2 separate regions of the Homo sapiens genome follow, and region 2 is linked to region 1. The links come from fine-mapping of genetic effects on gene expression. A gene starts in region 1. The other region holds a variant in brackets. All regions are shown on one strand. Distances are from middle to middle. Region 1 holds the start of MTF2 (metal response element binding transcription factor 2). Region 2 has its middle 57 kb from the start of MTF2.

Evidence for each region. PIP is the estimated chance that this variant, and not a neighbour inherited with it, causes the effect.
Region 2: its variant is the best candidate, but not a certain one, in a credible set for the expression of MTF2 in whole blood (INTERVAL, PIP 0.63).

Annotation. Positions count from the first base shown.
Region 1 is chr1:93,077,058-93,082,306 of GRCh38, forward strand. MTF2 (metal response element binding transcription factor 2) reads left to right here and starts at 2,226. Exons shown (of 15, transcript NM_007358.4): 1 at 2,226-2,474. The coding sequence starts at 2,470. RefSeq lists enhancers at 1,789-2,038, 1,975-2,269.
Region 2 is chr1:93,019,118-93,024,626 of GRCh38, forward strand. No RefSeq gene overlaps it. Among named protein-coding and RNA genes, the nearest start is that of MTF2, 57 kb to the right of the region's middle. RefSeq lists a silencer at 2,495-2,789. The variant C/T (reference allele first, on the strand shown) is at 3,162.

The DNA.
Region 1 (5,249 bases):
TCTATATTTCCGAGGAACCACAACTACAGCAGGTTTTTTTTTTTTTTTTTTTTTTTTTTGAGGCAGTCTCACTGTGGCTCAAGTAAGCCTACCACCTCAGCCTCCTGAATAGCTGGGACTACAGGCAGGGGCCCAGCTAATTTTTAAATTTTTTGTAGAGACAGGGTCTCACTATGTGGCTCAGACTGCATACTGGTCTGGAACTCCCCAGCTCAAGTGATCCTTCTACCTTGGCCTTTCAAAGTACTGGGATTACAGGAGTGAGTTGCTGGTGGCTGGCTGACAGGTATTCTTTATACTTGACTGTGACTCCCTGAGTGTCCTTAAATCTCTGAACACTTGGTTTGCTTACACCTTTGTACTCACACGTTTGCACAGAAAAATAACACTTTTTTTTGATAGAGGCATAATTTACTTCTCTAATGTATAAGGGATTAGAATACTTTTGTGTAGCCAAAGAGCCTAAATTATTAGAGTTTCTGAGGTGGAAATGAATGCGTCTGAAGTATTGAATCACTGAAGATTTTGAAGTTGAGGCTTGGTGACCACTTTACAGAAATGTTGAGGAAAACTTAGACCAAACGTTCTCCAAAACAGATGTTCTCTGATTAGGCTTAGCTGCACAGCAAATATATCTGTTTGTGCAATATCTTTATTAATTTTTGTACTGCATCTACTTTTTAATATTTTATTTATTTATTTACCTTAATGCCACGTTCCTGAATGGGAATGCATCTACTTTTTTTTTTTTTTTTTTGAGATGGAGTTTTTGCTCTTGTTGCCTAGGCTGGAGTGCAATGGCACGATCTTGGCTCACCACAACCTCTGCCTCCTGGGTTCAAGCGATTCTCCTGTCTCAGCCTCCCGAGTAGCTGGGATTACAGGCATGTGCCACCACACCTGGCTAATTTTTGTATTTTTAGTAGAGACGGGGTTTCTCCAAGTTGATCAGGTTGGTCTCGAATTCCCGACCTCAGGTGATCTGCCTGTCTCGGCCTCCCAAAGTGCTGGAATTACAGGTGTGAGCCACCGCGCCCGGCTGCATCTGCTTTTTTTAAGTCAAAATTTTCCTCAGCCAACGTATGAAGGTCACTTAAGACGAATTTATGAGAGACGATGATGAGAATTGAAATAAAGTGAAACCTGAAAGGTAGTAGGTAAGTAGATACAGTGAGGGTACAGTAAGAAGACAGACTTAAAAGATTAGGACTATTATTCAGGAGAAGCAGAGGAGTGGAAGGGTATGACCACAATATTTAAAGTATTGAATGGTATTGGATAAAACGAATATGCTTATTTGCCAAATTCTGAGATCACAGGCTGAGGGAACCCCTTTTGAAGTATGAGCCAAATGAGCTTAGACCACAAAAGGTACTTTTTCAGAGACAGAAAAAATATGGTGTTCACTATCCCTGTGGCATAATATGGGACAAAAATATAAAATGGCTTTAAAAATATTTTGACGAAATTATAAATAAAGATTCCACACGTGGCTACTAAGAGGAGCTGGGTTGTATCTAGGTGTAAGTTAAAGAGACAAGCATACAATCTCACAGCTTGTCAGTTGGGACCCCTGTAGGCAGCAGAATCTGGGCAGGCTAAGGGTCTGCACTAATAAACAATTCTGTTTTCTTAAACCATTTTGCAGGGGACTATTCTCAGATTTCATTACAACTAGGAAGGACTGCAAAGCGGGTAAACAGAAAACAACCTTTCATCGTTAGGAAAAAAATCGTCTGAAAGTCTTTCATAAAAGCAGCTCCTGATAAGGAGTTTGGGACTGGACAGTGAATCGCTGAATAAAATTTAATCTCGACATCCTGGGTCTTCTCCCCTCTGAAGGAAATTCTAACAGCAGGCCTTAGGATGAAAGTAGAGGAAACGTGCTTCAGTTAAGGTTTTCTCCAGGGAAAAGAAATCGGCCCAGCAAGATGCACAGAGCACCGTTACGACCACGCACACCGAAGGTCGCACACGACCCTTTTCCTGTATAACAGTGCCAGCCTGCCGACGATCAGGAGCGCAGCTTTCACTATTGTGTTAGCCCCGGCGGCGGAAGGACTGAGCCTCACTGCAACGTTAAAGAGTCCTTCTTTGTTCAGCCCCAGTCGGGGACGCAGGGCGCGGTGTTCCTCCGCGCTCGCCGCGCAGTCCCTGCCCCCCCGCGGCTTTGGAGAGCTGCCATTCGGCACCGGAGTCGCTCCGCGCTCCCAGAATGCACCGGCAGTCCGCGGGAAACCAAAATGGCGAGGGGCTGTATTGAAGTGGGCTGTGTTTGAGGCCGGTGTAAGAACGCTCATTCTACCCCCAACCCTTGTCTCCAAGGACCTCGGTTTGTGCGTGCATATGTGCCGGGTACCCGGTGGGGCGGGTGCCCAGTAAGTGCTCGGACTCGCAGGGGAAGCGCCCACGGGGACGGATTGGTTGTTTTTTCCTGTATGAAGCGGTTGGCACCACTGAAGTGACCGAATGAGGTGAGAGACCTTGGCCTGGGAACCGACTCTTCCGGAGGAGATGGGGGTTGGGGGAAGGAGGAAGAAAGGAAGCAAGTATAAAAGGGAAAGATGGAGGACCAAGGTGGGGGTGGGGGCTCCTGTATGTGGGTGCCTTTGCATTTATGTGTATATTGAAAAGAATGGATGAAGAGGAGTAGTCAGTTGAGTGTTGGGAGAAAATAGGGACTAAAGGAGCGAGGAGGTCGTTGGGGGAGTCTGTTGGAGGAACAAGATGAAACGTTGAGACGGGGAAGCTGTGTTTGGAGGGCAGGAAGGAACCTGGGGGCGGGAGACGGTTGGAGGGGCAGGATGAACCTGGTGACGAGGGGGTGGGGAGCCGAGAGGAGGAGCCGTTGGGAAATGGGGGCTGAGGGAAATGTGGGGAGCAGAGTGGAGGGCTGCCTGGGACCTTAGCAGTGCGCAAAGGGAAGTAGCAGCTTGGAATCGGAGGGTGGAATTGTATGGAATTGGAGTAAAGGGGGTCGAGTGTAAGTGCTGGTAAGGATAAGGGGAACACACTGAAGTGGAGGTTGGAAGCACAACCTGAAAGCTTAAAGGGAAGCGGTGGGAGGGAAAGTGAGATGGGGGAAAGCTAGGTAGCTTATATTTGGAGCTCACCAAAAATATGAGGCTTTTCTTGTGTTTAATTAAACCTAACTCATATAATCTACGTCTAGGATGTAGATTTGTATTGTATTCATTTTTACAACTGAGGTAATTACGGCTCAAGGAATTTTAACCAATTTGCCAAGATTTCTTAACATATTTCGGTAGTGCCAGAACTCTAACTCTGTGTTTTACAATCTGGTGTCCTTGGTTGCTAGAATTTTTCTTTGGAAGCAATTAGAGGGAACAGATGGATTTATCGGGGTAATCTGACTAACAGCAAGGGTTTGTGAACAATGGGAAAAGGCTTATGGAATGTTACTCTATTCTTTAAAACATTTAACTTTGGTTAAAGATAGAAACCATGTAACACTAACTTAAATGTGAAAACCTAGCTAGGCCTGTGTGTAATACATAGGAAGGCACCATGTGAGGTCAGTACAGAGCTAGAAATATGTAAATAGTACCTGATTTAATTTGACTTCAGAACCTCCGGTAGTAATAGTAGTTACTTTCTCCTTCAGATGGATTCCATGTGACCCTCCTGTATACCTAGCCTACAAGCTGGTTTCAATTTCCATGGTTTCATTCTCTCTTGGGAATTCCTTTTTTTTTTTTTTTTGTCAGTAAATTTCAAAGATAGTTGTATGTAGAAGTAGTTAATGTGGATAAAATGTAATTAAATTCACAATAACCTTTTTAAGATTTGAAAATGCTTTAAAGGGAGTTGTTTTGACTGATGGCTTTAAGTGCCCTATAGTTTAGTTATAACTTGAGAGGGAATACAAAATGACTTGTTTTTTCAGATTCCTAAATATAAAAATGTATTTGAATTCACATTTTAAAATTAGTTCACCTGCAGTTTTTTAAAGTGCTAAAAATGTTCTAAATATTTGAATTAAGAACACACCTGCTTCCTGATACTACATTTATAATGTTAGTGGGTATTAACGGAAATGTGTAACTATCAGGATGAAATGCATACACAGTTTTAGAACTAGTTGTACAGAAATCATCTTGTTAAGCCTTTTTTCTAGATGACACAATTATATTTAATAGTTCTTTAAATCATCCCCGTTGCCTCAAAGCTCTGTTAGGAAAGACATTCTGTGTATTTTACTGTGGGTCATTAACTCTTTGATTTCATGGATTATAAATATTCCTTTTTGTGGGATCTTTGAAGGATAATTTGCTTTAATCATTTTTCAGCATAATCTTTACATCTGACTTGAGGAAACTGACAGTATATTGTTAATCTATATTTTAACAGAGAAATTTGCCTCTGAGGAGTTGCCATGACCAACATCTGTAGCTTGATGGTTCTGAAAGTAAAACTTAACTGCTGTTTTAGTTAGTCGACACTTCCATGAACGATCTTTGATGGTTAATATTTTTGTACTTTGTTTTCCCTGTTCTTCAGGAAAATTTGTTTATTGCTGTGAAATCCAGTATAACCATCCTAAATTGGAATGTAAAAGTTTCCCTGTGGATATTTCTTATATGTTAGAGTAGTGCTATCTAGTAGAAATTTCTCCAGTGATGGCAGTGTTCTATATCTGCTGTATCCAGTACAGTAGCCACTAGCTGCATGTGGGTATTGAACTCTAGAAATGTAACTAGTGAGACTAAGAAGTGAATTTATAATTTAATTCATTAAAACTAAAATTTAAATGGCCATATGTAGCAGTGCTACTGTATTGGACAGCACAGTAGTAGGGGTTATTGCATCCATGTATTGAGGAATTGTTACATTCATTAACCATGGAAACCACAGGAATCCAAGGATGAGGAAATGCCTGAGAACTGAGGAAGTTCAGATTCTTTTTGTACATTTAAGATGAAGTATTCATTTTTACCACATACCATGTCTTCTGTCATATTTCTGTTTTCATATAACATTGCAATAGAATAATGAAAGATAGTGACCTCTCTAGTCTTTTTAAAATATAAGATTCTGCTTCTGTGTCAAAAAACAACAAAAAATGGATATTAGGAACGTTTTGTTGTTTAAAAAAATTACTTTGTTTTTACACTTTGGTAGAAAAAACTTAAGGAATATTTCAAACATAATACAAAGTGAGCAGAATAGAATAGTGAGCTTTTATGTAACCATTCTTTTTTTTTTTTTTTTCTGTAAAAAGAGACAAG
Region 2 (5,509 bases), 58 kb before region 1:
ATAAGTGGAAGCTAAGCTATGGATGTGCAAAGGCATATAGACTGGTATAATGGACACTGGAGACTCAGAAGCGAGGGATGGTGGAAGGAGGGTGGGGAGAAAAAATTACCTGTTGGGTACACTACACACAGATATACTAAAAGCCCAGATTTCACCACTGTACAATGTATCTATGTAACCAAAAACCACTTTTACCTCTAAAGCTACTGAAATAAAAACAAATTAAAAAAATAATGCTGCTTTAGTTGATAAAGTTGTTTCATTTGGGGGCATGGGTTAACAATTCTGATACTGCTACACATGTGTACTGGAACTAAATGATTGAGTAAATAGATGGCAGATTGTAGGAACCAGGTTTCTCACTGCTGGAGTGGGAATTTACAGATAAGCAAGGAGAAAAAGCTAGAATGATCCATATATTAATGGATTAAAGTTAGACACATCAGTAAGAACTCATATTTAGTTTAATTTGGATATAGATTGTTTTTTTAAGAGACAGGGTCTTGTTCTATTGCCCAGGCTGGAGCGCAATGGTGTGATCATAGCTCACTGCAGCCTTGAACTCTTGGGCTCAAGCAATGCTCTCACCTTAGCCTGTTGAACAGCTGGGACTACAGGCATGCACCACTACATCCAGGTAAATTATTTTTAATTTTTTAGAGTTGAGTCTCTCTATGTTGCCCAGGCTGGTCTCAAACTCCTGACCTCAAGAGATCTTCCCGCCTCAACCTTCTCAGTAGCTGGAATTCTGGGCATGAGCCACTGCACCCGACCTATATAAAAATATTTATAGATAGATGTATATACACTGGTTAGTATCCACACAATTATTTATTTGATCTGTTAGCAGAGAAGTCCTAAAAGACCTAGCATATTCTCTAGTACACAGACACCTACCATCCAGATCTCGGTTCCTAATACCATTATCTAACAAAAGGAACTAAGGGTTTTTTTGGAGACATGACTGATTCTAGAACTGGGGAAGGAAAGACACAAGATGTACCTGGAGCATGTTGCAGTGCCGAAAAGTAAGGAAGTGCTAGAAAAAAAAAATCATGTTGTTGGATTATGTCAAAGGGGCATAAGAGCCAACTGAAAGAGTTCCCGGTGACCAAAGGGGAAACAATTTGAGCAAAAAAAAATAAAATAAAAGTAATACTGAATTATAACCTAAAGTATAAAACAAGTATGCATGAGTTAACAATGTTATAAATACATAATTGAATAAATTAATAAGTGGGAGGAAGAGACAAATTGTCCATACAGAAGAATTGCAAGTGATTTATGTAGATACTCTGCCACCCTCCAAAAAGGGAGCATACATCCACTTCTTATGTGTGGGCAGCACATGGTGACTTCCCTCCAAAGATTATGGAAAGAGAGGAAAAAGAGTAACTTTACAGTGGAGAAACTTGGCAAAAACCACTTCAGCCAGTGTCATAAATCATGATGACTGTATATCCAGGGATACGATGTGATGAAAATGGCACTTTGCCTCTATGATCTTCCTCCTGTGGCCTCATAACCCCAATCTAAGACAAGAAAAACATCAAATTCCAATTGGAGAACATGCTCCAAGACACTTGACCAGTACTCCTCAAAGCTCAATTTTTCTGTAAATCTAAAACCGTTCTAGAAAATAAAATCTGACCAGGCATGGTGGCACACACCTGTAATCCCAGCACTTTGGGAGGCTGAGGTGGGAGGACTGCTTGAGGCCAAGAGTCGAGACCAGCATGGTCAACACGGTGAGACCCTATCTCTATAAAAAATTTTTTTTAATAAAAAGAAAAGAAAATCTATTTTTTAAAAATTTACTGACACATAGTTGTTATTATTGTTATTATTATTATTATTACTTTGAAACAGAGTCTGGCTCTGTCACCCAGGCTGCAGTGCAGTGTTGCAATCTCAGCTCATTTCTACCTCTGCCTCCTGGGCTCAAGCCATCCTTCCACCTCAGCCTCCAGGGTAGCTGGGACTAGAGGTGCACACTACCAAACCTGGCTAATTTTAGTACTTTTTTTCGTAGAGATAGAGTTTCACCATGTTGCCCAGGCTGGTGGCAAACCCCTGGGCTCAAGAGATTCTCCCACCTCGGCCTCCCAAGGTGCTAGGTAGGATTACAGGCGTGAGCCACAGCACCCGGCCAATTGCTCATCAGTAAATGACCCAAGGCCCAGAGAAGTTAAATAATTTCCCCAAGTTAGCAAAAGTGTAAATTATAATCAGTATAACCTAAATATAAGAATGATCTTTATTGTGATTTGTTCTAATTTACTTAGCAAACATTTATATTATGCTTACTATGTGAGATGCACTATTCTAATTGCTTTTCAAGTATTCTCTCAGTTAATCCTCATTATAATGTCATAAAGAAAGTACTACTATTATTCCCACTTTGCAGACAGAGAACATTTGCCCAAGCTCAAATAGCTAGTAAGTGGCAAAGCTGATGTTTGGATTGAGGCAGTCTAGCTCAGAGATTATGTGCTTGACCACTACACTACTCAGCCTCTCTTATTCAAAGAAAACTTTGAAAAGTCAATTTAAATTAAAGTTTTCTTCACCGTTTTTTGGCATCAAAAATTGTTACAGAACATTAAGTGCAGACAGACAGTTACTATGACTTGCCACTAGGAGGTGTCAAAACTTACAAATCTGTCTAATGACCGTATTTCAAAGGGAGTAAAGGACAGTTTCTCATCTACATTGCCATTAACCTGTTTCCGTTTGCTAGCCCATGAATAAAAAGAAAAACACACAAATGAAATGAGTTCAGAGGTGTTTGAATTTCGTAAAGTGTTTCACTTGTCTTTTTTTTCACCTTTATTATACATGGCCTTCCATATTATACAATTTAACACTTCATTATATACTGTTTTGTTTTCAAGTTGTTTCATTTGTCTTGTGCCCACACTAACATGTAAAGTTTTTGTTAGCAGGGAACATGGCTTATATTAAACTTATTATTTTTAAAAATTGTATAGCACCTAGCATAGTGTTAGGTACTTTATAAACACTTGCTAATCAGTTAAAATGCATAAATACCTTAATTTACATAATAAACGTGTTTTGGGGCTGGCATAAGTGAACTTAAAAATTCACTAGAGGTGCTAGATATTTAAGGGAATCCAATAATGAATCCTTTTTAATTAGAT[C/T]AAGAAGAACTCTGTAATTTAGCCTCGTGTAAATCTCTATTTTCATATACGGTTCGGCTTAAAGCAGGAAGTACCTGGGTATGCATCATTGGTTGAATAAAAATTTATTTCTGTATCTTGTACAGGTTTAAGAAAGACTTACTTGAATTCTGCCTTTTCTCCTTTCTGATGCTGATGGCAACAAACTGGGGTAGATCAAGTGGTTAAGATGCTGTCTGAAGAGGCCATGACTTGAGATCCCGGTCCTGCCCTGCCTCACTCACTGGCTGAGCAATCCACTTGAGCTTTCTGGGACTCAGTGTCCTCATGTATAAAAAGAGGGAGTTGAATGAGATGAGCTCTTTCAAACTCAACATTCACTTTCCCAGGTAAGGGGGCAGGCAGACAGTAGAAGAGCCTTCACAGATTCTCCCACCAGAATACCACACTTACAGTACTTGTATTCTTTATCTTAGATGCCATTGACATTGCGATAGTGTGTAATGATATAGTCATTGTCCATAAAATATTTAATATTTCCTTTATCCTCCCTGTCATCCAGGACACTATACAAATATAAGGGCAGGTAACAACCTTCTGTTCCAGTTTCAAAGACAAGTATGCTAAGAGACTGGTAGAAGATATGACAGTTGTTGAAACTTTTATTTCTCTCCAAGGCTAACTTAAAGAAAACCCTATGGCTGGGCAAGGTGGCTCACACCTGTAATTCCAGTACTTTGGGAAGCTGAGGTGGGAGGATCACTTGAGCCCAGGAGTTCAAGGCCAGCCTGGGCAACATAGTGAGACCCTGTCTCTACAAAAAAGTAAAAAATTAGCCAGGTGTGGTGGCACACATCTGTAGTCCCAGCTATTTGGGAGGCTGAGGCAGGAGGATTGCTTGAGCCCTGGAGGTTGAGGCTGCAGTGAGCAATGGTTGTGCCACTGCACTCTAGCCTGGCTGAGAGAGCAAGACCCTGTCTCAAAAAATAAAAAATAAAAATAAAATAAAAAAGAAAACCCTCAGATGTTAATTTTTTCCAACAAATAATTATAAACATTCCAAAAGTATAAGATTATTCTGATATTTAATTTTCTACCAAGGGACACTATGGTTCATTTAACTTTAGAATCTATTATTGGCAGAGGTTTAGGGGCCATCTGAGAGGGGTTTATGAGCTGTAAATTGAGTGCACTGAGAGCAATTAAGCATTTAAATTGGAGCGATGTGTAAATTTAACAGCTGGTAGGTGTTGTCAATTGCAAGCTACAGACCACCGGCTTGGCAGAAATCTGCATACAAACTGAAGAAAATCGATGGAATGGTGAAAAGTAGAACCTGGATTTGGTAATTTGGAGCAAACTTCAGATTGCACATACAGCTGAGAACATTTAAGATTAATCTAGAGGTATGGCATCTCCTCTAGGAATGCTTCACTGGACAAAGATTTGTTAAGCTATTTAAAATGTGCTTAAATTACAAGTTAATTACTCTCCCAGTTAATAGCTTGGGATTGTTACAAGAGAATCTGACCTTGAAGGCCAATGTGTATTTATCTCATAATCTTTGTGTGTGTGTGTGTGTGTGTGTGTGTGTGTGTGCTAAAAACAATGGTTGTTGAAGACTTAGAAGCTTCTATTTATGTGCATGGTATTTATAGAATTTATTAAAGCAGTGACTTTTACCATGTTCCCAGGATCCTCCTTAAGGGTTGCCACAAGGGCAAAAGAGAAAAAAACAGGGAGTTTCTGACATACTGATCTTCCAGCTTCCCATCATTGACCAACTTCTTAGTTAAGTAGATGTTTTAAATTCTCAGTAATAAGGCACCGATAATTGTTGAAGAGGAAAAAGATCAGGGGATTTGGATTAAACTTGGTCTGACCTATACTTTCTACTCCTCTTTTTCATATCAAAATCCACCCTTCCAGATCTGTCACTTTTTGAGTTGTTGGGTGTTTTTGTTTTACTTTTTTTTTTTTGAGACACTCACTCTGTCACCCAGGCTGGAGTGCAGTGTCACAATCTGGGCTCACTGCAATCTCCGCCTCTTGGGTTCAAGTGATCCTCGTGCCTCAGCCTCCCGAGTAGCTGAGATTATAGGCGTCACCACCATGCCTGGCTAATTTTTGTGTTTTTAGTAGAGACGAAGTTTTGCCATGCTGGCCAGGCTGGTCACAAACTCCTGGCCTCAGGTGATTACAAGTGTGTGCCACTGTGCCTAGCCTGCTTTCTGAGTTTTTTAAGGTAGCAGATTAAGTAACTTCTGATAAACCGAGGGGCATACATCACCTCAGGAAGCCTTATTTGTTCTACTAATTTTATTTATTTATTTTTTGAGACAGAGTCTCGCTCTGTTGCCCAGGATAGA